3 separate regions of the Homo sapiens genome follow, and all the other regions are linked to region 3. Evidence: fine-mapped expression QTL. A gene starts in region 3. Each other region holds a variant in brackets. All regions are shown on one strand. Distances are from middle to middle.

Evidence for each region. PIP is the estimated chance that this variant, and not a neighbour inherited with it, causes the effect.
Region 1: its variant is fine-mapped to the expression of FXYD6 in whole blood (TOPMed, PIP 0.95).
Region 2: its variant is fine-mapped to the expression of FXYD6 in whole blood (TOPMed, PIP above 0.99).

The regions. Positions count from the first base shown.
Region 1 is chr11:117,804,656-117,814,993 of GRCh38, forward strand. It overlaps a transcript of DSCAML1 not described here. Among named protein-coding and RNA genes, the nearest start is that of DSCAML1, 13 kb to the left of the region's middle. RefSeq lists enhancers at 4,751-4,820, 4,871-4,920, 9,155-9,732. The variant G/A (reference allele first, on the strand shown) is at 6,379.
Region 2 is chr11:117,831,227-117,841,564 of GRCh38, forward strand. It overlaps FXYD6-FXYD2 (FXYD6-FXYD2 readthrough), which reads right to left. Exons shown (of 10, transcript NM_001243598.4): 5 at 9,093-9,142; 6 at 8,555-8,604. It overlaps FXYD6 (FXYD domain containing ion transport regulator 6), which reads right to left. Exons shown (of 8, transcript NM_022003.4): 5 at 9,922-9,958; 6 at 9,093-9,142; 7 at 8,555-8,604; 8 at 5,755-7,051. The coding sequence ends at 8,576. It overlaps FXYD6-AS1 (FXYD6 antisense RNA 1), which reads left to right and starts at 2,492. Exons shown (of 3, transcript NR_186291.1): 1 at 2,492-2,835; 2 at 5,043-5,276; 3 at 5,942-7,093. The variant T/C (reference allele first, on the strand shown) is at 5,250.
Region 3 is chr11:117,871,827-117,882,164 of GRCh38, forward strand. It overlaps FXYD6 (FXYD domain containing ion transport regulator 6), which reads right to left and starts at 4,832. Exons shown (of 8, transcript NM_022003.4): 1 at 4,766-4,832. It overlaps FXYD6-FXYD2 (FXYD6-FXYD2 readthrough), which reads right to left and starts at 4,832. Exons shown (of 10, transcript NM_001243598.4): 1 at 4,766-4,832.

The DNA of each region.
Region 1 (10,338 bases), 67 kb before region 3:
CATGGTGGCTCACGCCTGTAATCCCAGCACTTCGAGAGGCTGAGGTGAGAGGGTCACTTGAGCCCAGGAATTCAAGACCAGCCTGGACAACACATGGAGACCCATCTCTACAAAAACATTTAAAAGTAGCCAGGCACGGTGGTGCATGCCTGTAGTCCCAGCTACTCGGGAGGTTGAGGTGGGAGGATCTTCTGAGCCTGGGAGGCTGAGGATGTTAGTGAGCTGTGATTGTACCACTGTGCTCCAGACTGGGTGACAGACTCTGTCTCATAAAAGAAAAAAAAAATCTCTCTTAAAACAGAATAGACTCATGAATCCGGATGAGGTCTGAGCAGCTCCAGTCCAGCGCCATCACCCCCTCAGTAGGTAGCTGATCTTCTCTTACTGTTGTCCAATGTTTTGTTGGATTTCCTGGGCTGACATGCCAATCACTCTGGACCACTATCCCACGAACTTCTACTGAACTGGCCTCCTTGGCCTGTAATCCTGATGTGGATTATTTGAGAGAAAACATGATCCCATTCATCATTTGGTGAAAGTTGGGAAATGGGGTGTTGCCTGGGTCAAATGGCACTTACTTACACAATGGGTGACTCAGAATGTCATCTAAGGTCCTAGCCCAGCCCCAGTGAGGGTGGCAGAGCTCAGCTAAGAATGCAGCAATAAGGTTCCCATTTCAGGCCACAATGACATTGAAACCCAGCATCTTTACCAAACTTGACCTTATTTTTGATAAATCCAGCAGAAAACAGAAAAAGATCTAACATAGCATTTCACAAGTGTTTCATGAGAAGGTAATAGGTAAGGTGCAAAAACTGATCTATGGTCAAATAGGTTTGGAAAACAGTGGAATAATCAAAGGTAAATAGGTTTTTGTGGGAGTTGTTTTTGTTTTTGTTTTTTACTGCAGGCTTTAACACGCTGGTGGGCATTGTCAATCTCCAAGTGCTACAGTATGAGGTTTTGGGGGATCCATTTCCCACTTCTCCTGGTTAAAAACTCTGTTCTTTCACTGTTTCTGGTCCACACCTGGCCTAAAGGAAGTACATTTTGTTGGTTTACTCATTCTTTTGGCAACTCTGTGCCCAGCCCCTGTGCAAGGAGTTCCCCGATCCCTGGAAAGTCTAGCACAGAGTCCCTGCCCTCAGGAAGCTTGCATTCCAGTGGAGTAGAAGATGTTTAAAGAGCAACACAGGGAAGCCTACATGCTCAGAGTCAGCAGGTCAGAGTGTGAAGGGACCTGGGGAGCATCTCCTGCAAGTGCCTAGGAAACAGTGGCTGGCAGGTGAAGGGCGTCCCAGGTCACATGGCAGAGTCAGGGCTTAGGTCCAGGGCTCCTGACCGCCTGGCCTGCGCTCAGCTAAGTGGTGTTTACCTCCCTCCTAGGCCCTGTTGCCTTCAGACTCTTGCCCACCTTGTTCACCACTCCATCCTCAGTACCCAAGGCAGGTCTTTGATGACTGTTTGTCGAATGAAGCTATGATGATGTGGCTGGGTTGGATGATCTTTACAGTCTCACCTAGGGCAAGGGGTTCGATAAGTCTGTGAAGAGAGCTGCTTAAGCTCAGAGAAAGGAGTGGTCAGTAAAAACCAAGGTAGGATGTGAGTTGGGCTTGAGCAATGGGAAGGATATGCAGAGAGGCAGGGAAAAGGCCTCCCTGCAGGGGCTCAGGAAAGCCTGACTCTATGGTGTGTCTACCCATCTGAGACACCCACACATCTGGCACATGGCAGTTCAGAGCTGTGTCCTCAAAGACTCATCGGTCCAAACTCTGAGCTGAACTGGCGGGCTAATTGTTTGTCTGCATCAGCCAAAGTAGCTTCTTCTTTTGGCAAATCATAATCAGAGTCCTGGACTCCTACTAATAACAATGATTATAATTGAGCACTTGCTGTGGGCCCAGCACTATGCTAATTACTCCAGATGCATAATCTCCAAACAACCCTATAAGACTGGTATGATTATTATCATCCCCATTTTACAGACAGTGAAACTGAGACATAGAGAAATTAACTAAGTTGTCCAATTCACGCAGCGTCAGATGCTCAAGGCAGTCTAATTTCAAACTCATCATTCTATGTATTGACTTTGGTGGTGGTGGTAGTGTTACTGCTGTTACATTTTTTAAAGTTTGAACATGGAAAATTTCAAGAATATACAAAAGTGGGGAGAACAGTATAACGAATTATTATGCACTCATTTCCCAGATGCTACAAGAGTTGACTCATGGCCAGTTTTTTGTTTCATCTATGCTCCCCTCCCATCACCATGAATTTTTCTGAAGCAAATTTCTTGTGTTACATAATTTCATCCATTGATCATTTTGTGTGCATCTCTCAAGGATGAGGCCAAATCCTCTTTCTCAATCACAATACTTTTTGCCTCCTGACTGAGAAGTTCCTTGGCCGGGGCACCCGCTTCCCCCAAGCCACACGCCAGATTTCAGGCTAGCCACTTCCCCACACAGTGGGCACAGAGGCAACAGGCTCAGCGGGTAGCCTGTCCCCAGCTCCTCACCACACAGCCTGACCAAATGGCATCTCTCTGCCTCCTCAGAGTGAATTTTTATCGCTGAAGCCCCTGCCATCAGTCTAGTTGCTCTGCAGATGGGGAACTGGATGTGGTGGTCTGCCTGGTGGGGTTGTTGACACAAGGATGAGTCTTTCTTGACCAGGCCTGTCCTAGGCTCCAACCCTGGCCTTGCCCCAAATCCCAGTACCTACTTCAGAATGATTTGGGGGGTGGGAGATCTCCTCTGCCTGGGAGGAAATGACTCCCCACTCCGCCCAGCCTAAGAGCAAGAAGGGATGAGATGGAGCCAAGAACCTGGAGTCAGAGATTCACCGCACTTCTCATGAGCTGGGAGGACCAAGTCTCACCTTTTTGGTCTGTGGAAGTGGGAACAGAACACCGACCCTGCAGCGTGGCTGTGAATGTCTAAGGAGATGGGCAAGTTTTCTCCGCAGAGTTGTTTAGCTAGAGAAGGTCACAGTACCTGCCATGGCCAGCAGGTGTCGCCCAAAGACTGAGTATGAGAAACCTTTGGGCGGGATGGGGGCTCCTCCATGGAGATTATCTTTCAATATTAGATACAGCTGGACTTGGAAGAAGTGGAAGAAAATTCAGCCTGAAGGGTTTCTCCTTTGAAAACTCAGTCTGGTTCTGGCTTTCGTCGGAGTTAAAAATTGGAGCTTTGCAGTTTTCACCCAGGCTAGAGTGCAAAGGCGTGGTCTCGGCTCACTGCAACCTCCACCTCCTGGGTTCAAATGATTCTCCCACCTCAGCCTCCCGAGTAGCTGGGACTACAGGTGCATGCCACCACACCCAGCTAATTTTTGCATTTTTAGTAGAGATGGGGTTTCACTTTGTAGGCCAGGCTGGTCCTGAACTCCTGACCTCGTGATCCGCCCGCCTAGGCTTCCCAAAGTGGTGCGATTACAGGCGTGAGCTACCGCGCCCGGCCTGCAGTTTTCAAAGTATGCTCACATGAAGATACCACAGCAAGACAGACATCAATATCCGCATGTTACAGATGAGGAAATTGAGGCTTCAGAAAGAGAGTGACTTGCTAAAAATTATGCAGGCACTAAATGACAGAGCCATTAAGTGACAAAATATAGAATTAGAAGGCCTTCGGACTCTATATTCTGGGCAATCTGCCGACACATTCCTATGGGTCAAACCTTTAGGAGGAGTCCTGAGACCATGGCTGGGCTGTCCCTGCCCCTCTGGAAAAGATAATAGGCGCATGCCCGAAGCCCCTGGCATGCGACATGCTATCCCCTGAGAGCATTTGCCATCTCTGGGTCTCAGTGGCTCCGAAACCACACAACTACACATGCACACAGGCACAGGTGAGGTGAAGGAGAGAGAGATCCCAGACTACAGAATCCGGGATCTGTATTTTCTGTTTCCCAGTATTTGGATGTAAGAAGCTTAGCATAGGTCTTGGGGCTGGCATTTGGGAAATCCTGAACTAGAAGATAAACTAGAAGGTTTATGTTCTGTAGTTTCATAAACACTATCCACTTAAGCTTGTCAAAAACACTAATACAGTGTCTGGCACATACTTGATAGTCAACAAAAATTTGCTGAATAATAAATGGCTGAAAAACACGCAATCACCCAGCCCAGCAGAAGCCTTGGTGAACACTGCTTCATCCCTCACCCACTTTACATGTTCGCAGCACTTTGTGGCGTACATATCTCATTTACACACATGATCTCGTTCAATCTCTTTAATGAGTTGGATATCACAAACCCCATCTCACAGATGAGAAAACTGAGGCTCCGAGACACTAAAGGACTTCCCCAGGGCTGCCCAGGTGGTCAGTGACCGAGCCAAGCTCACGCCCACGCCTGTCTACCCTGCTCTAGCAGCTCCGTCACTGCCCCGCCCCTGCTTCATATCATTTCCACTGCGAAGCTTGAGAGGAGGAAAAATCCATCCAGAGAGAATGAATCTTCCAGATCCGTTGGGAATGCCTCAGATTTAGGAGAGGCGACCTCAGGAGTTTGCCCTGAGACCCCAGGCTCAGGAGAAGTCTTGCCTCATTTGGCGAAGGGGCTCAGTGCAGACCTCCAGGGTGGGGCAGGTCCTGGGAGGCCAGCTGCCGCGTCTGCACTCCTGGAAAGTGCAGTGTGGGAAGGGTGGGAGCTGTGGGAAGGGAGGGGAGCCCTCCTCCCCGCTGTGCCTGACTCCTTGGGCGTGGCTCTGATGGCTGGAGAGGACAACCCGCCTCCCTGGCCCACTACTGGATGTGTCTCTGCGGTCCTCCGCGGAAGGAAGCTCCAGGCCTCCGCACTGGGAACCTGGTGTCTGCCTCCCCCTAGTGCCACAGGACAGGATGGTGGCGCCGCAGGCTGCTGTGCAGTACAACATAGACGGCGGCCACTCAAATTCTCCACTACACAGGTCCTGCCCTTCACCCCAGTCATGTCTCGCAGTGAAGCCGGAGGCTGGGCTCACTCCCTGCCCCAGCCTGTGTCCTTGCCAGCCTCTAAGAACTACTGGAGGGGACCAATGGTGTCCTCCAAAACAGACCTCTGATTCTCAGCTGAGGAGGCTGAATCGCCGCGCAGCGCTCCAGATGCTAGGTCCACCCACGCAACCCTCCTGGGTTGCTCTGCTCCTCCCCAGTTCCAGCTCAACTAGCAACGCACAACACACACAAACTCACACAGTCACATACACACTCACACTCACTTACACATTCACATACTCTTACACACACACACCCACACACTCACACACACATTCACACATTCACACACACGCATATTCACATACACACATTCACACACTCACACATTCACACACACTCATACACACATTCACATACACACATTCCCACACTCACACATATTCAAATATTTTCACACACATTCACACTCACACACATTCACACACTCACTTACACATTCGCACACACATACACACATTCACATACATACATATTCACATTTCAATCTTGGCGCCACACTTCAATCTCTCCCTTCTCTTAATTTCAATTCCTTTCATTTTCTGATAGAGACAAAGGAGACACGTGGACCCAAAACTCCGTGGACCCAAACTCCGTGGACCCAAAACTCCGTGGACTCAAAACTCCAGCGCCCTCTGGGGGAGGGGCAAGTACCCCTCAACCCCTTCTCCTTCACCCTTAGTGGCAAGTCCCGCTTTTCTAGGGGGCAAGAACCCCCAATCCCTTATTTCCGCACCCCGACCTCTTATCTCTGTGTCCCAATCCCTTATTTCCGCACCCCGACCTCTTATCTCTGTGCCCCAATCCCTTATTTCCGTGCCCCAACCCTTTCTCTGCTTTTCTGGAGGGCAAGAAACCCCCACCCCCTTCTCCGTATCTCTACTCTTTTCTCTAGGCTTGCCTCCTTCACTATGGGCAAGCTTCCACCTTCCATTCCTCCTTCTTCTCCCTTAGCCTGTATCCTTAAGAACTTAAAACCTCTTCAACTCTCACCTGACCTAAAATCAAAGTGTCTTATTTTCTTCTGCAATGCCGCTTGACCCCAATACAAACTCGACAGTAGTTCCAAATAGCCGGAAAACAGCTCTTTCAATTTTTCCATCCTACAAGAGCTAAATAATTCTTGTCGTAAAATGGGCAAATGATCTGAGGTGCCTGACGTCCACGCATTCTTTTACACATCAGTCCCTTCCTAGTCTCTGTGCCCAGTGCAACTCGTCCCAAATCTTCCTTCTTTCCCTCCCGCCTGTCCCCTCAGTCCCAACCCCAAGCGTCGCTGAGTCTTTCTAATCTTCCTTTTCTACAGACCCATCTGACCTCTCCCCTCCTCGCCAGACCAAGCTAGGTCCCATTTCTTCCTCAGCCTCCGCTCCTCCACCCTGTAATCTTTTTATC[G/A]CCTCTCCTCCTCACACCCGGTCTGACTTACAGTTTCGTTCTGTGACTAGCCCTCCCCCACCTGCCCAGCAATTTACTCTTAAAAAGGTGGCTGGAGCTAAAGGCATAGTCAAGGTTAATGCTCCTTTTTCTTTATCCCAAATCAGATAGCGTTTAGGCTCTTTTTCATCAAATATAAAACCCCAGCCGAGTTCATGGCTCGTTCGGCAGCAACCCTGAGAAGCTTTACAGCCCTAGACCCTAAAAGGTCAAAAGGCCATCTTATTCTCAATATACATTTTATTACCCAATCTGCTCCCGACATTAAATAAAACTCCAAAAATTAGAATCTGGCCCTCAAACCCCACAACAGGACTTAATTAACCTCACCTTCAAGGTGTACAATAATAAAAAAAGTTGCAATTCCTTACCTCCACTGTGAGACAAACCCCAGCTACATCTCCAGCACACAAGAACTTCCAAACGCCTGAACTGCAGCGGCCAGGCGTTCCTCCAGAACCTCCTCCCCCAGGAGCTTACTACAAGTGCTAGAAATCTGGACACCAGGCCAAGGAATGCCTGCAGCCCAGGATTCCTCCTAAGCCGTGTCCCATCTGCGCGGGACCCCACTGGAAATCGGACTGTTCAACTCACCTGGCAGCCACTCCCAGAGCCCCTGGAACTCTGGCCCAAGGCTCCCTGACTGACTCCTTCTCGGCTTAGCAGCTGAAGACTGAGGCTGCCTGATTGCCTTGGAAGCCCCGTAGACCATCGCGGATGCCGAGCTTTAAGTAACTCTCACAGTGGAGTGTAAGTCCATCCCCTTCTTAATCAATACGGAGGCTACCCACTCCACATTACCTTCTTTTCAAAGGCCTGTTTCCCTTGCCTCCATAACTGCTGTGCGTATTGACAGCCAGACTTCTAAACCTCTTAAAACTCCCCAACTCTGGTGCCAACTTAGACAACACTCTTTTATGCACTCTTTTTTAGTTATCTCCACCTGCCCAGTTCCCTTATTAGGCCGAGATATTTTAACCAAATTATCTGCTTCCCTGACTATTCCTGGATTACAGCTGCATCTCATTGCTGCCCTTCTTCCCAATCCAAAGCCTCCTTTGCGTCCTCCTCTTGTATTCCCCCACCTTAACCCACAAGAGACCTCTACTCCCTCCTTGGCGACCAATCATGCACCCCTTACCATCTCATTAAAACCTAATCACCCTTACCCCACTCAATGCCAATATCCCATCCCACAGCAAGCTTTGAAAGGATTAATGCCTGTTATCACTCGCCTGCTACAGCATGGCCTTTTAAAGCCTATAAACTCTCCTTACAATTCCCCCATTTTACCTGTCCTAAAACCAGACAAGCCTTACAAGTTAGTTCAGGATCTATGCCTTATCAACCAAATTGTTTTGCCTATCCACCCCATGGTGCCAAACCCATATACTCTCCTATCCGCAATACCTCCCTCCACAATCCATTATTCTGTTCTGGATCTCAAACGTGCTTTCTTTACTATTCCTTTGCACCCGTCATCCCAGCCTCTCTTCGCTTCACTTGGACTGACCCTGACACCCATCAGGCTCAGCAAATTACCTGGGCTGTACTGCCACAAGGCTTCACAGACAGCCCCCATTACTTCAGTCAAGCCCAAATTTCATCCTCATCTGTTACCTATCTCGGCATAATTCTCGTAAAAACACACGTGCTCTTCCTGCTGATCGTGTCCGACTAATCTCCCAAACCTCAATCCTTTACAAAACAACAACTCCTTTCCTTCCTAGGCATGGTTAGTGCAGTCAAAATTCTTACACAAGAGCCAGGACCGCACACTGTAGCCTTTCTGTGCAAACAACTTGACCTTACTGTTTTAGCCTAGCCCTCATGTCTGCGTGCAGCGGCTGCCACTGCTTTAATACTTTTAGAGGCCTTTCCTACAAGGTCTGAGAAGGCCACCACAGTCATTTCTTCCCTTCTGTCAGACATAATTCCTCAGTTTAGCCTTCCCACCTCTATACAGTCTGATAACAGACCAGCCTTTATTAGTCAAATCAGCCAAGCATTTTTTCAGGCTCTTAGTATTCAGTGACAGACTAATGGTCTATTAAAAACACACCTCACCAAGCTCAGCCACCAACTTAAAAAGGACTGGACAATACTTTTACCACTTTCCCTTCTCAGAAGTCAGACATGTCCTCAGAATGCTACAAGGTACAGCCCATTTAACCTCCTGTATAGATGCTCCTTTTTATTAGGCCCCAGTCTCATTCCAGACACCAGACCAACTTCGACTGTGCCCCAAAAAACTTGTCATCCCTACTATCTTCTGTCTAGTCATACTCCTATTCACCGTTCTCAACTACTCATACATGCCCTGCTCTTGTTTACACTGCCGGTTTATACTGTTTCTCCAAGCCATCACAGCTGATATCTCCTCGTGCTATCTCCAAATTGCCACTCTTAACTCTTGAAGTAAATAAATAATCTTTGCTGGCAGGACTATGCTGAATCTCCATAGGCACTCTCTAATTAAATGTCCTAGGTCCTCCCAATTCTTAGACCTTTTATACCTGTTTTTCTCCTTCTCTTATTCCATTTAGTTTTTCAATTCATACAAAACCGTATCCAGGCCATCACCAATCATTCTACATGACAAATGTTTCTTCTAACAACCCCACAATATCACCCCTTACCACAAGACCTCCCTTCAGCTTAATCTCTCCCACTCTAGGTTCCCACGCCACCCCTAATCCCGCTTGAAGCAGCCCGGAGAAACATCGTCCATTCTGTCTCCATACCACTCCCCCAAAATTTTCACCGCCCCAACACTTCAACACTATTTTGTTTTATTTTTCTTATTAATATATGAAGGCAGGAATGTCAGGCCTCTGAGCCCAAGCCAAGCCATCGCATCCCCTGTGACTTGCACCTATACGCCCAGATGGCTTGAAGTAACTGAAGAATCACAAAAGAAGTGAAAAGGCCCTGCCCCGCCTTAACTGATGACATTCCACCATTGTGATTTGTTTCTGCCCCACCTTAACTGAGTGATTAACCCTGTGAATTTCCTTCTCCTGGCTCAGAAGCTCCCCCACTGAGCACCTTGTGACCCCCCTTCCCTGCCCACCAGAGAACAACCCCCTTTGACTGTAATTTTCCATTATCTTCCCAAATCCTATAAAACGGCCCCACCCCTATCTCCCTTCGCTGACTCTCTTTTTGGACTCAGCCCGCCTGCACCCAGGTGAAATAAACAGCCATGTTGCTCACACAAAGCCTGTTTGGTGGTTCTCTTCACACGGATGCGCATGAAACTTAGTTCATAATTGGCTAAGCCAGGGCTCAAATCCAGGTCTGCTGATTCCAAAGCCTGTGACCTTAGCTGTGAGGCCAAGGAAGAAGGGATCACGCACACCTCTGACCACCCCAGCTGCCTACCCTGACCCCACAACTTCCTTGCTCCTGGAGGCATGGAGCAGGGACAGGGGTGGTCCACCTGGTTGGTAATCAATCACTCATTCATTCCTCTACTCAACCAGTCACGTGTGCACTCAGTAAACATGTATGGAGGGTGCACTAAGTGCCCAAAGGGGGGTGAGGCACTGGGATCGGTGGGTGAACTTTCAGATGCAATCCCTCCCTCATGTAGCTTATAAGCAGTGGGGCCTCAGATGTGAAGGCAAAGCTCAGAATTCAGGGGATTCAGGGTCCCCTGGCAGGTGCCCAGGGTGCTAGAGAGAGCAGGTCAGGAACACTCTTGAACAGCGGAGGCCCAGCCTGGCTCGTCCCCCTCCTGCCCCCTGGGGCGGGTGTCTGCGGCCTCCAGGCTACTCCTGGATGATTTTATTAGCTGTGTTGGGAGCATATGGTCCTCGGACATGAGACCTGAAGTAGTATTTACTGGAGAGCCGAGGACACCGGGTTCCCGTGTGGGCTGGGTTTGGCACGCACTCGGTTACTGATTGATAGGCCATT
Region 2 (10,338 bases), 41 kb before region 3:
CATAAATCCCCTTTCATCCTGAGACTTTGCTGAGGACTGCCTGACCCTGGGCAAGGGCACCCCTCTGGGTCTCCTCCCACCTGTAAAATAGGGTAATAACACCTACCTTGCAGTATTGTTGTGGGAACAGAGGCAAGGTAGGTCAAGCGTTTGGCCAGAGAAGGTCCTAAAAACTGATGGCTGTGTTTTCCTTACTCCGAACTGAGCCCCCCAGGAGACAAGAACACTCACAGCAATCCCTTCCCTTGGCTCAGTCCCCAGTTGCGGTGATCTCTAAAGCAGGCCTCTGGGAGCACCCTGCCCTGGTATGATCCTGCTGGCCACAACTCACCCTGCATCTCCAGCCTCCCTTTCTTCTCCACACAAAACCAAGAAACCTCCTTTGTCTAATGGTTCCAGGATGGAGACAAAGGAGCATCCAGCTGTGCTCTCCTGTTCTCTGCAAGACCCAGAGCTCTGGGAGATGTTGGGAGGTAGAGGCAGTGCCCACTCCTGGATGCGTCAGCACTGTCACAGCTGATGGGACCGTGCCCTCAGTGGCGAGGCCTCCATCTCCCCTGTCTCCCCTAGGCAGGCCTCCCTTTTGTCTCCTGACTCCTAAGTCTCAGGGCAGTCATTTGGGGTGGTCGTTGCTGGGTTGGTGGGGCAGGGAGGAAATAGGCTGGAATCCAGCTGACCTCTGTTTTCCTGGTGATCAAAGGCAGAGGCCCTCACCACCAGCTTCCCAGAATGGGGTTCTCCAGCTCCGCCAGCTCTGGCCTTTGTGGGAGTTTACAGCCTTGAACTCCAGGTCCCCAGATCAGTTCCTCCTGGTGTTGGCTTGCAGCTGGAAAGGGGCTCCAATGAAGCAGAAGCCAGAAGCACCTAGAAAGCCATGACCCCAGGCCCAAGTCAGTCCTCAGCTGCATAACCCGTATGGCCACTGGGCAGGGAAAGTGGCAGTTCCCAAGCCCCATTTGTCCCACTCAGAGGTCCTGAATCCTGAGGAACGCTGGCTCCTGCCTCCTGCTATGGTTGCAGGTGCCAGGTCCCTGGGGTCTTATAAGGCAGGGCTGGAAGGAGGTGGGCCCCAGAGGGTCCATTCCTTAAGTGTTGGCTTCAAGAAGGCCTGAGCCATGGTGCACAGAGGTTCTGAGAACTGCCAAAGGGCAATGTACTCTGAGAGTCAAGGTCACCAGCTGGTGACAAGGGCAAACCCATTTGACCCACCTCCCCCACAGTGAATGCCTTGGAGAGAAATGCATTCTTGACTGTTCTCAGAACTCACATCCAGGCTTGAACCACAACAGAGCCCATTCCTCTCCAGCTTTTCTTGGTTTTCTCCTCCCAGTAACCAAACTCCCTCTCACCTCTGGGAGAGGCTCGCCACCTCCGGGAAGACCTCGCGGAGCAAGCCCACCCCTGGTTACTCTTACCTTCCCTCCACCACCTTCCGGATGCCACTGACATGGCTTGAATGGCCAGCATGTGGCCGTGTCACCATTCTCTTCATTTATAGCACAGATTGCCAAGTCCCTGGCCTCCTTGAGGCCTCAGGTCGGGTAAGCTGTTAAACGTTTGTACCTGCACTGAGCCTGGTGCCCACTCTCCACACTTGGCAGCAATTCCACCCTATTCCAGGGTCTCAGTGGTTCCAAAGAGCTGCTTAGAGCCTCCCAACAATTCAGCCAGGCAGGCTGTGAGATGCCCATTTTACAGAGGACACTGCAGGTGGTCTGCAAACAGGTCAGAACATGAACCCAAGTCTAACAGAGACAAGAGGAACCCGGCCATCAGAGAATGAGGAGACAAGGAAATGGATAGTGATGCCAACATTTATAGCATAATGGCTACATGGAGAATTGTCACGGTGCTTCGATGTCCATTGTATCACTTTGACCCTGTGAGATAACAGAAAACATCTTGATGCATTTATTTTATAGGTGATGAAACTGAGGCTTAAGTGGCTTTTCCAGGGTTACACAGTGAGCAGGAGGCCCAGCTTACCCCAAAGCTAGGAAGGACTTGATTATTCAGAAAAGGAAACTGACAGAGAGGCTGGGGTCTTTCCAAGCTCACACTGTTAGAGCAGAAGGGACCTCGGGGATGTTCTGAGCCTCAGGCTCTACCAGACTGCCTCCAAGCCCAGCTCAGAGGTAGGAAACCGTTCTTCTGGATAGTGCAGGGGGGCCCACCCCCTCCAGTCCCTGCCATCCAGGTCCTTCAGGACATGCGATCACAGCATCACCTGCTCTGCCATCATTGCCTTGGCAGGTGCCCCACTGTTGTGCAACCAGGCCCGGGGCTGGGCTGGCCCCATCAGATCAACAGCTGGTTGGCTTGAGCCGGCTGAGTCTGCCCCCCTGGAGCTCAGCTGTGACAGCAATAAATCACACTAATGGAGAGAGGTGGCCATTCCTTCTCTGTGGCCTGGAGACAGGTTTTTCCAAAGCTCCTCCCCTGGCTCAGGCAAACACACCTGACCTTTCTCTCGCTGGGCCCAGGGTGAGGCAGAGCAGCCAGGAACAAGGTGGGGTGAACCAGACAGAGCTGGAGTGCTCTCCCACCCCTGCTTTGCCCAGCCTCCCCGCCAAGCCCATGATTCCAAGCAAGGTAAGGCCCTCCTCCCAGAGGAAGGGGCCAACAGCCCGGTGACCTTGGAGTGTGCTTCGCCTGGCACTCCCCTCACACCGCTCCCTACAGCTTGTACTCTGCCTCTGACTCTCTTCCAAGAACAATTTGGCAAGTTCTAATCTACATCTTGCAAAAAAAAAACAAAAAACAAAAAACAGAGAGGTAGGAGGGCCACAGCACCTGGGGTCCCAGAAGGCAGACTGACCTATTCCTACAGCAGGGGTAAGTAACGCAGAAAACCTCCAGGCAAAGAGACATGGAGATCTTCGAAATGGAATGGGGGGTGGAGGGAGTCACTGGGAGGCAAAAGGTGTGGGACACCTGAGGTTACTGAGACAGGGAACTTGGGATTCCCTTCTGGGAAATGACACAGCATGGCAGCTGTCCTTCTTATTCAGTCAAGCTACATTGCCTCATTAAACCAAATCACAGCTACAAACCAGTGCCACATGCCTGGAGGCTGAGTGGACACTCCTGGTCCTCCTCATGGAGATATATAGCACTCTGAGTTCTGATCCAGCTCATCTGTGTGAAGTCCTCAAACAAGCACATAGTAAGTGCTCCATAAACTTCAGCTGCTCATTTTTTTTAATTATTACCATTTTGACCATCATTTCTTCGATTGTTCTTCATGTGTCTTGTTTCCAGACCATTAGACTCCCACAGGAGGCTCCTTGGAGCATGGTCCAGCTAGTTTATGTCTTGAAGGGGCAGCCATGCTCCAGGTGCAGTCTTGGGAGCCATCTGATCACTGTCCCTTCTTCTGAGCATCTGCCTGCTGAAGGAGGCTAGGCCATGTGCTGACAAGCACTATGGACAGACAGCCCGGGGTCAAGTCCTAGCTCCTCCATCCCCCAGCTGTGTAACCTGGACCAGGACGATTGTATCTCTGACCAATCTCAGAATATAGCTGGATTACTAGGAGGAAAACTAAGTGAGTGCTTAGAGGCGGGCAAAGTAAGGATAACCATTTGTAGATGATGTGCTAGAGATGCTGACCATCATTCCTTACTCTTAACATAATTATTATGAGAAAAATTAGAACCTCCTCATTGGACTTCCTTATTCCTATGTCGAAGTATAATGTTCTGTTTTTACTAACGTATGGGGGGCGGCACACACAAAGCTTTGCATGTCTAGGGCCTCTAGGGATCTCAGCCTGGCCTCGCTATGAAATTTCTGCAAGGCCTGTCAATTCCCTGATGTATCACGAGTGTTCCCGAACAATAAGCTCATTTACCAGGTCTTGCTGTGACCAGATAGTTTTTAATCGCCATGATCACTGGGTTGACAGGTTGAGCTTGAGCTCTACCATAAGCCTGTGTCTTTCCAAAGGCCTGGGGGACCGAAGGCAGAAGCAAGAGCACACGTAGAGAAGGCACCGAGCAAGCGGATCTGTGCGGTTCTTCGGTTCTAAACAACTTGCGGAATCCAGGCGGACTCAGGGCCTGTGTGGCCACTGGGCAGGGAAGGTGGTGGTTCCCAGGCCCATCGAAACCACAAGGAGCACTGACTTCTGTCTCCTGCTATAGCTTCAGGTGCCAGGTTCACTGGGGTCTTAGAAGTTGGGGCTGGAAGGAGGTGGGCCCAGAGGGTCCCGCTCCTTAAGTGCTGGCTTCAAGATGGAAGATATTAAGACGTTCCAGGGGTCGATTCTTTTTTCAAGACCCTAAGATGTTCCAGGCTTCTGTAGAGCAGGCACAGTCCTTGCCCTCCAGGAATTGTATCAATAAAGACACAAAACACTAGAGGCAGAAGCTGCACACAGGCAACCTCCACGCAGAATCTGCCCACATCTGTGTTGGTTTGGCCAACAGTGGTTTTTAGAAAGTTGAGTCAGAGTGTCTTTGGGAGGACACCGTAGGTGACTGCAGGTGCCATGCCCCATCGTCACTCCAGCAGATTCACATATTGGCATTACCTGCCTGGTCTCTACAGTCTGGATGCCAAGTATGAAGTGTGAATATAAAGGCAGCAAACAAGTGTGATTGGGGCACAAGAAAGGGATTCGGCTGGGCGCTGTGGCTCACGCCTCTAATCCCAACAATTTGGGAGGCTGAGGCAGGCAGATCACTTGAGGCCAAAAGTTCGAGACCAGCTTGGACAACATGAAGAAATCCCGTCTCTACTAAAAATATAAAAATTAGCCGGGTATGGTGGAAGGCACCTGTAATCTCAGCTGCTCAGGAGGCTGAGGCAGGAGAATCGCTTGAACTCAGAAGGCAGAGGTTGCAGTGGGCCAAGATAACGCCACTGCACTCCAGCCTGGGCGACAAGAGCAAAACTCCATCTCAAAAAAAAAAAAAAAAAAAAAAAGGGATTCGATTCTACCTAATGCCCAGGGAGGCTCCACAGAGGAGGGGTATTTCACAATCCACGTCACCCACCCTGTCACTCCCTTGATCCCTTCCTTCCTTTTTTCTTTTTAGAGACAAGGTCTCATTCTGTTGCCCAGGCTGGAGTGCAGTGGTGCAATCACGGTTCACTGCAACCTGGAACTCCAGGGTTCAAGCAATCCTCCTGCCTCAGCCTGCCGAGTAGCTGTGACAACAGGTGCGAGCCACCATGCCCAGCTAAGATTTCACCATGTTGCCCAGCTGGTCTTGAACTCCTGGCCTCAAGCAATTCTCCTGCTT[T/C]AGGCTCCCAAGTTGCTGGAATTACAGGTATGAGTCACCACCCCTGGCTCTCTTTACAAGTCCTTAGGTAGTGGCCCCAGAACTGACCAAAGAGAAATGTTAGGATGTTTTACTCCAGGCCACTGAGTACTTGGAGAAGCCATTGTGACTCCCTTTTTTGCTCCAAGACAGTGTGCAATGTACAGGTCCTGCTATGGGATGTGGCTTGAGCCCAGTGGCCTGGGAAGGCGGGAGAGAGGGAGGGAGGAATAGAAATGGCGGGAAGGTGCGGGACGAAGGGCTGAGCAGGAGGAGAGGAAAGTGAAGGAAGAAAAGGAAAGGAGGGAAGAGAAGCGGGGAGGAGGCAACAGTGACAGCAGCTGACGGGGCTCTGTGCCTGCCTGGGTGGCTATCCAGTCCTTCCTCTTCCCTCTGACCATGGACGGACTCCCTCTAGCCCTTTAAGTTCCACAGACCCTACAAACACTCAAGTTCTTTCACAGAAAGGAAAGCACCTCCGAGCCACTAGGAAACAAAGGATATTTTATTCCTTTTTTCTGTTGTTGTTGAGGATAGATCACGATACAGAGAACAGCAATGGGTCACAGCGCACGGTTTGGTTGGTTTCCGCGGGAACACAGAGGACAGGAGGGGCGGGATCTGGGTTGAGTTCCCACTCTCGTTATGACCTTCAACCTCTCACTGTTCCCAAGGGCTGCACGGAGCCTGCTGAGTCTCCAACCCACCTCGCTCACCGCTCTGACCACTGACAGGCAGAGCAAAGGATGCGGGAGTTGCCTCTGCTGCCCATCTAAGGGGACGTAGGCAGAGAAGCAAAGGCCTCTGCTCTCCCTCCATCCATCCCGGTGTGCTGGCCCCAACGGAACAGGAGTCCTTCAACTATTGCCTGCCAGAGACCCAATTGCAGGGACTGTAGTCTGCATCTGGATGAGCTGGGCTGTAGATTGAAGTCTCAGAAGCAGGGAAGGTTGGAAGGGGTAGGGTCCCAGAGCCCATGGAGTTATTGCTGAGAAGATATGCAGGGGACACATTCCCCAGGGGCAGAGTAGAAGCCCTGGGCCTGGAATCCCCGGGCGCTCTGTGAAGGGGCGGGGCAGATGGGGACTCCTCGTGGAAGCCCCTGGGAAGAAATTAACCACGGAAGGGCATAGCCTGCCTGACGTCAACGCTGGGCTCACCAGCTCCTTGCTTTGTATCTCCAGTTGCTAAGAGACCTTCAGACTGGGATCAGGTGGGATAAGGAAGCAAGGTTTTTGTTAAAGGAGTGAAAGGAGTCCATGAAGAATGATGACAAAGTGCTGCAAACCTTCCCAGGTCCCAAGACGACTGAAGACCACTGCCCGTGCTCTTACCCTACGCATCCCTAAATCAGGGGAGGGGGCTGGTCTCGGGCAACAAGCAGCCTCCTAGGAGCAGAAGGTGATGGAGGGCCACGGGGGCAGGGAGGAGCAGATGGCCATGTGGCTCAGCCCCTGCCTGGGAAAGCGAGTCCACAGTTCACTAACAAACACAATACCATCCACAAACAAGTAGCCACAAAGACCACAGTTAGCAAACACACACAGTCACACACACACACACACACACACACATCACGGGAGGTGGGCAGGACCGCAGGCTGCAGTGGGGAGGCAAGTGTTAGTTGCATCATCAGGTGGAGGAATGGTGTTAGAGGGGATAGGGTGGGGGACACACAAGTTCTTGGCTTCTCCTGGGGAAAGGGCTGTTGCTGAAGTGGCCGGTTTTCTTAAGCATCGACATTTGCATCCAAAGGTTCAAGCAGCCGCCTCAGGTTCCAGAGGCTGAGGAGGAGGATAATTTAAATTAAAAACACTTCGGCTGCCTCTGGTATCCTTATCTGCTTCTCTCCCTTCCTTGAGCACCTGCCCACTGAAATTCCCGGTATGACAGCCTCGTCTGAGACGCAGAGAAAGGAGACAAAGACACAGGGGAGGGGTGAACCTCAGAAGAAGCCTCTCCCAGGTGGGCTGGAGCCTGGCAGACATGGAAAGGAAATTGTTAAACCCAGGACCTCCCCAGTGGTTGCTCACAGTCCTGAGCCTTAGGATAAAAGGTTTCTGAGAAAGAACTAGTTTGGGAAAAAAAAAATGAAAAGACATTTCATTTCCAGGCTGCCTCCTCTGAGCCTTCCCAGATTCTCAGTCTGTGATGAAATAGACAGAACACCAAGCTACCAGGAAGGGCACCTGCCTCCTAGATCGGAATCTTCGTCCATTCGCACTTAGGTGATCACTTGCCTTCGAGAGCCCCATCCAGAAGACGGGAGTAATGAGCCCTGCTCTGCCCATCACGGGCCGCTATGAGGATGCAAAAGCACTTAGGAAAGAATTTAAATGCTACACAGGCACACGATATTGTTACGCACAGTCAAAGCTGGTGCATCGGGCACTTCATCATCCAGAAACCTCTTTTACCTTACAATGTGAGATAAACTTATATACCTTTCTATAATGCCTTACTTGTATGGGGGGAAAAAAAGGCAGAAGTGAGCTGACAAAACACAAACCTTTTCCCTTAGGATATTCCAGGGCATGTCATAAAGCGAGACGCACAGGACAGAGGGGAGCAGTGGCGCTGAACCACAGCCGCAAAGGCCTGAGTTCACAGTCCGGGCTGTCACTCTCCACGGGGCTATTCCCTCTCATCTTGGTTTCACCTATAAAATGGGCTAAACCCCACCTGTCCCATCCTCTTTTTCTGGCAGACTCGAGTGAGTCTGTGTGTGTGGTGGCACTCTGAAAACTGTACAGCATTTGCCAGTTACTACTCTCCTGTGCCCCCTACGATGAACAATGGAAATAGATACTAAAATCAGTGCCCTTAAATGTGGAGAGGGAAGGATCATATACTATTTGCTCTACTTTTGGTTAGGGTTGGGAAGTTTCATAATAAGGTGTTTAAAAAAACAAGTGGCCCTAAAGTACTTTCTGAGTCACCACGGAAAGCCATTATCTTTATGCTACTTTGAGATTAGGAGCATTTCACTAACTCTAATTCTCCCATGTTGCACTTGGGATGACGCCCTATGCACTCGGCCAGTGGGCTGTGTGGAAGCCCCATTTCCTGGTGTTGGCATGCATGTGTGTGGGACACTTCGGGTGTTTCTAGTCCTGGTCTCTCTCACAGCCCCTTTCAGACTCCTGAAGGCTCCTCAGGGCAGGGCCCATAATAAAAGCTGTGCCCACTGCAAAAGCTAGCCCCATCCTTCCCGCCTGAACCCCTGTCCAGGCCCTGATGCAGACGGTGATGGCAACAGGGGCCAATCCAGGCACTGAGCATCTCACCTTCCACCTGATGGCTGCACTTCAGTTCTCTGCTTTCTGGGGCTCTGTTGCTGGAAAGAAAACCAGAATGGATTATAGTGTATAGACTCCTCACCCCCGTGGGCCACCCCCAACAGCAGCCGTGTCTCTGCCTGACTCTGGGGGAGCAAAGAGGTGACGGGCATGGGATTTCGAGTCAGAACGATCTGGGTTCAATCCTGGCCCTGCTACTTGCTGCTTACAGGAACCTGGTAACCTCTCTCAGTCCCTCGGTTACAAAATGGGGACAATGATGCCTATTTCAGGGCTGTGTGCCCATTAAATGATATGGGGTCTGTGCCTGGCACAAGCAGATGCTCTGTAAATAGCAGGTGACACTAGTAGTAGCCTGTTTGGTGGAGTGAGGGGGCAATGCTGCAGAGGCCCTGGAGACCCACTCTCCTGGCACTGCGGGAGCATGTCTGGCTGGCCATGCACCTGGCAACAGTCCCTTCCTGAGCCACAGAGGGGTCTCTCTGTTCCCTCTTTTCCACCTGGGCAGGTGGTCACGGACAGTTACCATTGGCGGTGATGAGGTTCTCCACCTGGGCTTCCTCATCTCCTGGGGCCCTGCAGGAGAAAGAGACACACAGCCCCATCAGAGATCTCCAGGGCAGACCCAGAGAGCATCGTTCTGCTCCTCACTGGGGCACAGCTGCCTGCAGTCAGGCTCCTCCCAGTGCCCTGAGGGGCTGGAGCTCACTCTGCTGTGGGATGCATGGGACAGAGGGAAAGGTCTGGACTGAAGGGTCAGACTCAGAGGGAACTTACAGGCACCCTTCAATGTCAGCCCTCATGGGAAGGGGAGGCTAGGGCCACATGGGGGCTTGGGTGTGTCCTGCCACACGCTTTGGACTTCTGGGGTCCAAGCTACCCTTGGCTATTATAGTAAACTAATGGGGTATGACCTCTATGTGGGAGTAGAAAGAAGGTCCAAGTGTCTATTCAGCTCAAAGAGCCTCATGAACAGGTGACAAGTGGGGACTGTGTCGCAGGTCCTGTAGAGAGGACCTGGGCATCTAGAGAGGCCAGGAAGCCCTCTGCTTCCCTTCTCCCAAGCTCAACTGTCCCAAGGGCCTCCAGAAAAGGTTCCAGTACTTTCTTGTCCACTCCCCGTCCCCCACATAGATCAGAAGAGACAGGATGGGCTGACCTTCAATGTTTTGACCTCTCCTTTGCCCCAGAGTCTACCTGGCAGTCCTCAAACTTCCAGCCCTACGTCCCAACACACACGTTCTGCCTCCGAGACAAGAATCCAAGAGAATGCCCATTTGGGGGTCACACACCAGGGGTCCCTTCCTGTCCCACCTAGTATCACCCCCCCAAGGCCACTGCCACGGCATCCTTACCGGGGCTTCTGATTGAAACTGCACTTGCACCTGCGACCTGAAAAGCAAAGAAACCATCCAAGGTCATGCTGCTGGCTTGGCCACAGCAGGGCCAAGGGTCTGTGCAGGTTGTGGGACTATGTAAATGGCACCCCCTAGACCTGGGCAGTGCACAGTTTGCACAGCTGCACACAGTGGCCCTCGGATGGGGTAGCTTCTTCTGGGGCAAAGGAAATACATTCTATAGCTGGAATGGCTACACCCCCACAGCCCTCTTGATCATGTGAGTAAAGAGGGATCTGTGCAGATCAGGCTCATGTGGGAACAACAAACTCGGAGGCACATCCCTCGCACACTAGGGCAGCACCTGTCTCCTTCCTCCGTGACTGCCCCATTCATGCCCTATAGACACAGCACTGGGAAGCCACCCTGCTCGTT
Region 3 (10,338 bases):
ATCCAGGAAGCATCAGAATGCAGTTTAGAATCCAAGTTTGTGTGTCTACAAAGACTGCCACCCTCTACTCGGCACATTCCAGCAACGGCTTGAGCTCAGGCAGAGGGTGAGACAGTACCAGGCTTCGGATGACCATCTGGAGAAGGTGCCTGCAGAGGTGGCTGCAGCCAGGTCACGCTGAGCCTGGAGTGCCTACACCATGTACCTGTGCTTATTAATAGGCACTGGTGAGCCTGGGGAGGTTTTTGAGCAGAGGAGTGGCAAACCTGGACCTGAGCTGTAACATCAGTGGGTAAAATGGAATGGGCTGAGAGGGTGGACGTTCACAGGCCATCACCATGGTCTGAGAGACTGCAGCTCTTCGGGAGAGGTGACAGGGCGTGTGAGAATGTGTGAGCCACTGCCTCCCTGTCGGGTGTGGGAGATTATATATGTGTGAGGAAGGGAACGTGTGTGAGAGTGTAAGTGCACCCGTGATTGCATGGAGGGGCTCTTCCTATGGAGGAAGAAAGTCGCAGGGCCTCCTGGTAGGATGTGGACATGAGGTGGACAGTAGGGGAGAGGAAGGAACAGGACAAGCCCATTGATCTACCTGAGCAGGAGGGCTCCAGCAAAGGAGAAACCTCAGAAGCCCACAGGGCCTGCCTGACATATGAGGGGAACATTTATTAAAAGGATGAACGAGGGAGTTTGAAACCTTAGCCTCTGGTCTCTCAGTGTGGGCCTGGCTTTGTCCTCCAGCTGCGTGGGGGTCACTGTTATTCTAACTACACCCCTTCATCCTTGGCCCTCTCTGCCCACATCAGATATTCTGAGCTGGGGCAGCCCCATTCCCATGGCCCCAGCCTGGTCCGTGGGGGCCCAGCCCCTTTCCCAGGCTGTGTGCTCCCTCCCACATCTTTGTAACAAACATGTTCCTGCGCAGCCTACAAGCTGGCTTCATCCCTTCCCAGGTCGGGACCTCTCCCTCCCCGGATTCTGGAGCAGAGATGATGCTGCCAAATTGGTTCCATGCTTTTGTTTCGGCCGGAGATGTCCTGCCTCTCATCAGGGACGGTGTCAGAGCACTGTGTTCCCGACCGGCCCCTCTCGTTGCAACTCTCCAGCTGGCCAGGGGTTCTCCCTGCAGAAGATTTCATGGACCTCCAAAATGACAGCCCAGTCCTCTCCAGTTGTCTCTTCCAGAGAACAACTCTTTAAAGAACCCCCCCCAACCGCCGCCCGCCTCCAGTGTGCAGCCTGGTAGAAAAGGCCAGGTAGACCACAGCATCCAGGAGGAGGTGGCTCCCTCAGCCCTAAAGAAAAAAACTTGGTTTCAGCTTCTAGGGCACCTTCTGCCACACTGGGTGAAAAGGAAACTTTCTCCAGGGTAACCAGAGCCCAGCCCCTTCCTGCTCAGCTCAGCTCAGCTGCAGCCCTGTATTATGAAATAATGAGTACTATTTGGTACCTGGAGAGAAAAGGGATCTCTTTCAAGATTGTATAATCCACACAAATTTAGAGGAAGACATGCCTTGGAAATCATGAGTCTAAACCCCACTATTGACAGATGCGGAAACAAAGGTCTAAAATCCGAAAGGCTTTCAGTTGCTGAAGAGCAGTCCAAGCCATTTCTGGATTTCACCAGAAGCCCAGTTTGCATCCAAAGGGATATTTGTGCAATGAACGCATTTGCCTTTCGGTAGCACGGAAGCTCAGGGGGAGAGCTGGGGCTAGAACCCGGCCTTTCCACAGCAGGCTCCCTGCCTCCTTGGGGCTGTGCCTTTCTTGACTGGTTTGCTTCCCTTAGGGTGCTCAGAAGGTGATTTGTTCGAAGGTGAATATTGGGGGGCTGCCTGGCACAGTCTGCCATCCAGATGGCGGCCGACTAAGTCCAACAAGGTTGGGAGGAAGAGAGGAGGTGCTCTTATTTAGGGGAGATTTCGGTGGGTGGACTCCCCCGAGGCTGTCGGGAAATTTCCAGGGTCTAGGAAACTGCCCTTTCTCCCCCATCTCCTTGCCACAGCTTCCAGCCTCGCCTTCCAAGAAAACATAGTGAAGCAGGCTCCTCGGTTGTACCCGCCCACTAAGGGACCCTCACTTTGGAAGGGCGTCCCAGTCACCAGCCGACCAAAGGCTCTCCCTCCATAGGTTTCCATCAACCCACCATCTCTGATGGTGACTGAGAAAAGAAAGCAAGGGTTGCAGGACAGGCAGTGTGAAGGCCAAAATCCTGGCCGAGGAGTTAGAAGGCCTCAGCGACTACTGGCCACGTGACTGCTGAGCCTCAGTTTCCCCCACTGTGTTCCCACTGGATGCTCCCTCAAGGCCTCTTCCGGCTCTGAGAAACCTAGGATTCCGATGTCAGGGATTGTGTCTCCCTCCTCACCTTCATGTCCCCAGCAATTAATACACAGTAGACACTTAAAACAGTTCTTTGAATGATTGAATGAAATCGGTCCTCAGGTCAGTCTGAAGATCCGATGGAAGCCAGGAAGGAAACGCTTCCCCCAGGCGCCTACCGTCTGTCAACCATAGAAGCCACACGTCTTGGGAGAACCCTGGCAAGCCTAGAGCCCTTTGCACACCCGCTTCCTCTCCTAGATGCACAGATCTGTTTGGAGGAGCCAGGGGGGAAGCAGGAAAACGTGCCAGGAAGAGAGGGTGGCCTGAACCCCAGGCAACGGCGGGTAGCCCTAACTTTCGCTTTCTTGACTCCTGTGGCCCCTCTCCTTCCCTCTTTCTGGTTTCCCTCCCCTTCCTGCCTCCCTGGCCTGGCCTCCTTGGCTTTCCTGGGACAGTAACCACTTTTCCTTCTCTCCTTTGTTAGGGCTCAGAGCCTCCGATGGTCCCAGAGCTGGCCTGATCCTCTGCTGGTGAGGATGACTCCCAGAGCCTCAGGCTTTCTCTGGGTCAGGGAAAAGAGCAGCGGCAGTGGAGAGATTGAAATTCTGGTCAGTGCCCAGCTTCTGGAGCCCAGCACCTGGGAATGGCTCTCGTTAACACCTGGAGCTCCGGACTGGGGCTTTGAGGAGGAGGGAAAAGGGCTGCGCCCACTCTTTATCCAACCTTCCCTTCCAGGTTTAGGGAAGGGGCTCCTCTTTTGAGGGAATCTGGCAGTGCCTTTCCCTCCACCTTCCTCTGCAGGGTTCCCAGGGAGATGTTAGGGTTTTCCTTCTGGGCTTCCTGAGCCTCCATCTCTTCCCCTCCACACCCCTAGGGAGGTGGCTGGATAAGGAAGGAAACTGCCCTCTCTCTCCCCTGCCTCAGCCCAGCCTGAGACTTATTTAGATGTACTGTGTGTGTGTGTGTGCATGCACAGTGCGCATGTAGGGTGTCAGTGTAGCATTGTAGCTGGTGTGTGGTGGTGCGGTATATATGCGGTGTGTTTGGTGTGTATGTGTGTATAGGTATGATGTATATGTATGTGTGGTGTGAGTGTGAGGGTGTGTTGATTGCGTAGTGTGGTATATGTCTGTATGTGTTTGTGGTGTTGGTGATGTGCAGTGTGTGTGAAGTGGGTGGTGTGAGTAAGGGGCCACTGCAATTGGGTGTAGGAGCCAGATATCTAGGTCTCCTAGCCAGGGATAACCAGTATCTAGGCAACCATACTGGGGGGAGGGGAGGAGATATGGAGGTGAGGAATGGGCAGGAGAAAGAGGGAGGCTGAGAAATGGAGGAGTTTCCATGGCAACGACCAGGCAAGTCACGTGCAAAAGGCTAAGTTGCGGACGTAGACATACACATCCATAATATGAGGGTGGCTGGATCCCCAAAGGGGGCTCCTTTCAGAGAGGGCCTGAGATGCCCACTGATCCATCTTCAAAGCTGGAAATCTTAGCCCAGCCAGACAGCACGAAGCCACAGAGACAAAGGAAGTAGTGGCAGAGAGCACACTGGTGGGGAGAAGCCTCCAGTAGCCACGGTCCCGCGAGCGTGCAGGCTTGCAGCAGGTGACGCGGCAGACCCATGTTTCCAGCGAGGCTGCTCCCAGCTCCCACCCTCGGGTGCCTCCTCTACCAGCCACCACTTGTAAGAGCCAGAAGCCAGCGCTGGGAGCTCCAGGCTGCACACCCAACTCTCCACGGAAGCCCGGGAGACACAATAGGGGAGGCTCTGCCAGGGCCAGCCCTGCTGGGGAAAGGGGGCAATGGCGGACCCCAGGGCCCCCCGGAAAGGAAACAGGATTGGATGGATAAGACAAGAAGGAGGGAAAAAATGATGCACTCTCATGAATCCCCGAGCGCTAGAATCCTTCTTTCCCTGCGCCCCCATCCTGTGCCCACTGCCCAGCCCCACCTTCCCCAAGCACCAAACCAGCAAGTTCCATTTTGTGTCGCTCATAAGTCCACACTCACACCCAGCCACACGCCCTCGTCCGTAATTCCCCACGCTCCACCAAGTGTCCACAGCTTCCAAGTAACAAAGGGAAAACTCCTCATGGATAAAGGGTGGGCGCAGCCCTTTCCCCTTCTCCTGAAAACCCTGACCCCAAGCTCAAGGCAGCACCGAGAGCAATTCCCAGCCACCAGCGTCACCCCCAGCGCCACAGCCTGCCTCCCCTAGAGGCTCCTCTCTCTTCCGACGCCGATCTCCTTGTTTACATCCCCAGCCCGGTTTCCCGCTGCCCAGGCGGGGACCGCGGCGCAGCTGACCGCGGAGGACCGCACACACCCACTGAACACACAAAACCCGGCGCTCCCGGCGCTCCAGAGATCGGTCCCCACCGAGCCTCGCCCCTCCTCGGAAAAAGGAGCCAACTTTGCCCACCTCCCCAGCCGCCTACCTGCACAGCCGGTCCCCTCCGAGACTCCCAGGAGGACCCGCCGAGTCCCGAGGAGCCTGGGAGTGGCGGGGCTGGGGGCAGGGCGGTGGGTGAGGCTTGAGCTGCTTTCCCGCCTCCCCTCCTCCTAGGAGTCGGGCTGGCTGGGAGGCGCGTCCTGCGGGGGCGGGGGGGGGGCTCGCTCGGGGCTGGGCTCGGGGACAGCCCACTCCGTGCTGCCGTCCGCTGGCTTCTGGGTAGCGGCCGCGCGCAGACCCCCTCTCCTCCTCTCCCTGTCCGTCCTCCCGCTCTGTGCTCGCGCGCGTCCTCTGCTCCTCTCTCCTCTCGAGGGGCGGAGAGATTTTTCCAAAGGGCAGTCAAGCTCCGAGAAGCAACAGGAGACTGCCGCCGAGGAGGCGTGCAAGCGCCGGAGCGGATTTGCCATCAGCTGTTGCTTTTCGGTTTCCCTCTGGTTAGGGTGGGAAGGGAGCAAGACAGGCACAATGACAGACCTGGTGTCTCTCTGCAATAGTAAACCCCGAGGAACGGAAAAATAGGAGAAAATAACCCAGCACCAGACACAGCAGCCCACGTTAATTGGGAGCCTTGGTAATTAAGGGGAATGTGCACCAAAAGCATGAATGGCTGTGTCGTGGGCGCAGGAGCCAGCTCCAGTTGTAGTTGTCATTTTCAGCTAGAGCCAGGTGGGGAGCTGGGGGGATGGTCCTTACCTGAACCATAGATCTGCTGCCTTGAACCCCCTTTTCAAGCCCCATCCACCTCTGGCCCTGCCAGGAGCAGTACCACCCCGTCCTCAGCCCAGTCCCCAAGAGTCAAAATTCATGATGACGAACTTTGAATGTGAAGATGTAAATAAATCCTGGCTCGGCAACCCTGCCTGTGACGCGACTTGGAGCATATCTCTGCACTCAGCTCCTGAGTCTATTTCCTCACGTGGGAAAATGGTGATTAGAGACTGACCCCATGGGAGGCTTAGCTCATAGTGAGTGCTCAAGAAATTGGCTCTTACTATTAGGGGCAGAGCTTGTAGGAAGGGGCAGAGGCCAGGCACAAGTGTCAGTAGCCAGGAGCCATGCTGAGATGGAGGCTGTCCAGCCTCAGTCAAGGTGTGTGTATGGCCGAGCCGGGTGGAGGGAGGAGCTACTGAGAAAGGCTGTGATTGTCCAAGCCTAGGTAGGGCCACGGAGAGTTCCTTACAAACCCCAAGCCGGGGATGATGGGTACTGCTAGGAAGAAACCTAGCCCTGCCTCTGCTGCCCTCAGTTCTGGGCCTGTTTTCTCATTTGGGAAAATAGGGAGATGGACTAGATGATCCTGAGGTCTCTTCCAGCTCTGCCCTAGATGATCTAATTATTTTAATAAAAGGTCAGGTCTCAAAACCCCAAGGCAGGAAATATACATGAACTCAAGAAGACTTTGGAACCAGTAGGGGAACCATAAATAGCTACTGAGAAAGAGCACCCAAAAAGCCTCCCCTCAGGGGATAGTTCTGGCCCCTTAATCATGGGACCTGGCTGAATGGATGCCACTCTGGCCCAGTCCTGAACTCCCTGGGGTTCCTGTGAATGCTAAAGCTCCTTCTCCAAAGCCAGACTCAAATCTTGCCTATTTGCGTGCCTAACCCTTTGCCGTTCCTGTCTTTTCCTCTATAAACTGAGGACAGCATTCCAACTGTCGTTTTCCCTTTTCATGTATTCTAGGTGGCAGATTTAAAACCACATCCCTTTCTAGGCCCATGTCCTTAGGCAGGTACATTCATCCCTCCAAATGCCCTTGAATCCTGCCTTTTGGCCATCTCTCTGTGCTTTTTAGAGCACCTACTAGTGATGACACGTCAAGCCCAGGCTTTGCAAGCCTATTTGGGAAAGGATAGTTCAGAACTCCAAAGCCAAGCCACCTTCTGGTTCAACCCCATTTCCAGCCAGAGAGTTCTGAAGTGTTTGGCCCAGTGACTTCCCAGGTCCCCCTACCTAATGCTGACCAGCCCAGGCTGCAGAGGGATAACAGGAACTAAATGTGCATGAGAAACCGCCATGGCTTAACTCTCAAATAGTGCTTCATCACGTTCCATCCAAGGGTACTGCTGGAAGAATTTGGGGTGTTACAGCTACAAAGCAGCACGCAAGCTTGTTCTGGGGTGAGTCACATCTCCCTTCTAGCAGGAAAATAAACACATCTACCCCCTGTGAAAAATGTGGGCATTCATAAAAAGAGGTCGCCAGCTGTTCCATTCTTTCAACCACGTATGGACAGGAGGAGCTACTCTTCACTGAGACCTGGGCCAAGATCTGAGGATATACTGTGGAGAGGAAAGATGTGGTCCCTGGGTGAGATAGAGATTTAGCAAATGTTCCCATGAATAAACGTGTAATTAAAACACAGTTCAGAGCCCTGAAGATATAGCATTTGAGAAAGGTCAGGAGATGTTAAGAAGATGAGGTAAAGGAGCCAAGAATTGGGATGTCAGGGTGGGAAGATGATTCTGCCTCTGGAACAGAAGCAGTATGTGCAAAGGCCCTGAGGCAGAAGGGGCATGGTGTGAAAGGAGCCAGGGTGGGACTGGCCCAACAATTCCTGGTGATTCCAGCTTTTATCCTGGGAAGCACTGATGGGCATCATGAAAACTGTTCTGAGCAAGAATTGGTGAGAGGTTGGGTTGGGATGTTCCTGGTGGACCCTGCAAGTCAGGGTTCAGGGGGCTGTGTGGGGGCAGCACTAACATGAAGCTGAGAAATAAGCCTGATCCCCACTAAAGAATCCTGCTTCTTTACAAGCCCAAAGAACAAAAAAAGATCCAGGGCAGGGCTGCGCAGCCATGGAGAAAGTAGGGTAAGAAAGGGTGGAAACCATTCCTGAAATACTCCCCACCCGCCAGAACTGGAACCATGGGAAGACCTGGAGCTGGAGAGGACAGCATAACTGCTGGGAGCATCAGGGACTGCTCTATGCTTTGAAGCTTGCTCTGGGCTAAGTAACTCACAAATGTGCAGCTAAAATCCCATCTGGAGAGGACTTGCCCTGGTCCCCTTGTATTGCAGCAAAATAGCCCTTCCGCATGTCAGTGCCCTGGTCACACAGCCACGGACAGGTCACAGAGTGACCTCCTGTGTCCTGGTCACACCGGACATGGAGGGCCTAAAGGGGAAGTTAAAGGGGAGAGACCAGGAGTCTTAGAAGAGACCCTCACCCCTCCTAGCAGGCATCCCTTCTAGTGGGGTGCCACTTCATCCTGGGGTGGGGCTGCAGAAGGGAGCCGATCTTGCCCACTGACTGCTACTTTGTGTCCATGCATACCCACTTGGCTTTGCACAGGTGTGAATGTGTGTCCTCCCCACTCAGCCAAATGCCAAACCCCCAACCCCTAGGACAGAATCGTTTCCTAGCTCCTTGGCTGAAACAGCTCTGCTCACTTCCAAACCACTCCTTGATCCTGGGTCCCTTCCTCTCTCTCCAACCTTTCTTTGTCAAACTCCTCCAACTTCTCCCTCAAGCAGCTGTGTTGAGTCCTTGGTCATCTTATGCAGTTGCTAGACAATCTAAATCCACAACCAGGGTTTTACCACCCGCTTAGGCTTGATGAGTCCACAATATCCAGCCCGGTCCTCTCCCCAGGAGACCCAGGCAAGTAATCCCAGGGAGTCAGCACCGCCCACTCCCAATCCATCCTCCCAGTCCACTCCCTATCCATCCTCTCACGGCTTGAAGCCGTTCCCTCTCATGTCTTCTTTGAATTCATGAATGGCACTGCCCCCAATCCAGTTACCCTGCAGAACACATGCCACGCTCAGACCTCTCCCCCAGTGCCTCCTTTCCTGCCCACCACTCCTGTTCTAGGTCAGGTCTCTGGCATCAGATTCTCACTGGTGACTCTGCCACAGTCCCCCTACCTCTAGGTAGAGTTATCTTCCCCAATACAAATGCGATTCAAAACTTCAATGGCTCCGTATTTTCTACGAGTTAAAGTCAAAATTCTTAACACGACATTCAGCCTTTACAACCTGACACCCACCTGCCTCTCCTGCTTCATCTCGTGACCCATTCCCTGCCCTATTTCCCCCCATCACCCTCATCACTCCAATCCTTGTAAATGTCGTGTCCCAGACCAAAAGAGCCGTGCACAGTTATCCACATACGCTGCCTGATTCCTACCCCCAAATCTTTGTTTACATAGTTTTCTCTGCTTGAAACATCCTCTGCCTCTACATCCTCTGCCTATTTTCTCTACTTACAAGAATTCTACCTATGCTGCAAAGTTAAATTCAAATATTACCTTATTAAAAATGAAAGCTGTCTTATCCATGCTGTAATTAACAGCATTGTGTCTCTACGTCTATAATTGCACTTATCATAGCCTGAACTTTGCTATGTTTACTTGCATGTGTCTGCTGCCCTAATAGAATGAGAACTCCTTAAGGTCAGACCTGGCCTCTCACTCCACTTATAGACCCCACTATCATGTGTGGTGACCCACTTATAACTTGTTGAATTTAAGTGAATTGTAGTTGTTGACTTGAAGGACTCTGCCTGGTCTTGCTCCAACCAACTTCTCCACATTCATTTTGATCTCCAGCCAGCAACCTCCTGCCTTAACCAAAGGTCTTAGCCGTAAGTCTTCAGAGAGTCTTCAGAATTGGTTCCCTGAGTGCTGATACCCTGTGCCTAGACCACACTTGTGAAATTCATTAGCTTTGCTTTCTCTTGCCAAGATGAAGAGAGGAAGTAGTTGGTGCTCGAGGCCACAGCCAGAGGAGAGATGGATAGTGAGCCTCACAGGGCTGTGATCATTTCAAATGAAGGCCTTCTCCTGAATGGTGAGTCCTGGGGACCTCCCAGGCCAGACTGCCTCCAGAGGAGGAGCAGGTAACCATCGCACTGACCTGGGGGATGAAAAGCAGGTATTCCCTGACTACTCACAGAGCTGTCGGGATAGGGTGGCAGACACTGCTCGGTCCCTAGCCAACTTCGGTTCTCTTCTTTTTCCTTTCTGTCAGAACATTTTTTCTAACTGAGCAGCAGTATGCTCAAACTACTCATTTTCTCAGACTCCTTTGCAACTCTGGGTGTCCATATGACCCAGTTCTGGCCAAGGAGATTAGAACAGCATTGCTCCAAGAAAAATACAGTGGTATGTTTCTTTTGCCCTCCGCCCTTTGTTCTTTCCTGTCTTCCTCCTCCTCATTCTTCTTCTTTGTCAGAAACATGGATGTGATGCCTGGAGATGAAGCAGCCATTTTGCAACCATGAAGAAAATAAGTATTTGAGTAAGGATGGCAGGACAAGAAGCTGTAAGAGCCGTCAACAACATCTGAATGGCTTCATCCCAGATTCCTTGTTATGTGAGCAAATTCAACTCCTATTACATAAAGTGACTGTAGCTGGTTTTCTGTTCCATACAGCCAATACAAGCCTAACTGATGTACGTGGGTTGGAACAGCTGGGGAGGACAGGCTTTCATCCTGAGAAAGCAGAAATTCAGCACAAGTCCTTCTCCTCTAAAAGTGCTTGACCTGCCACTTGCAGCCCAGTAACACACACCTGACACGTACCCACACATCAGAAGAATAAACACCGGCATC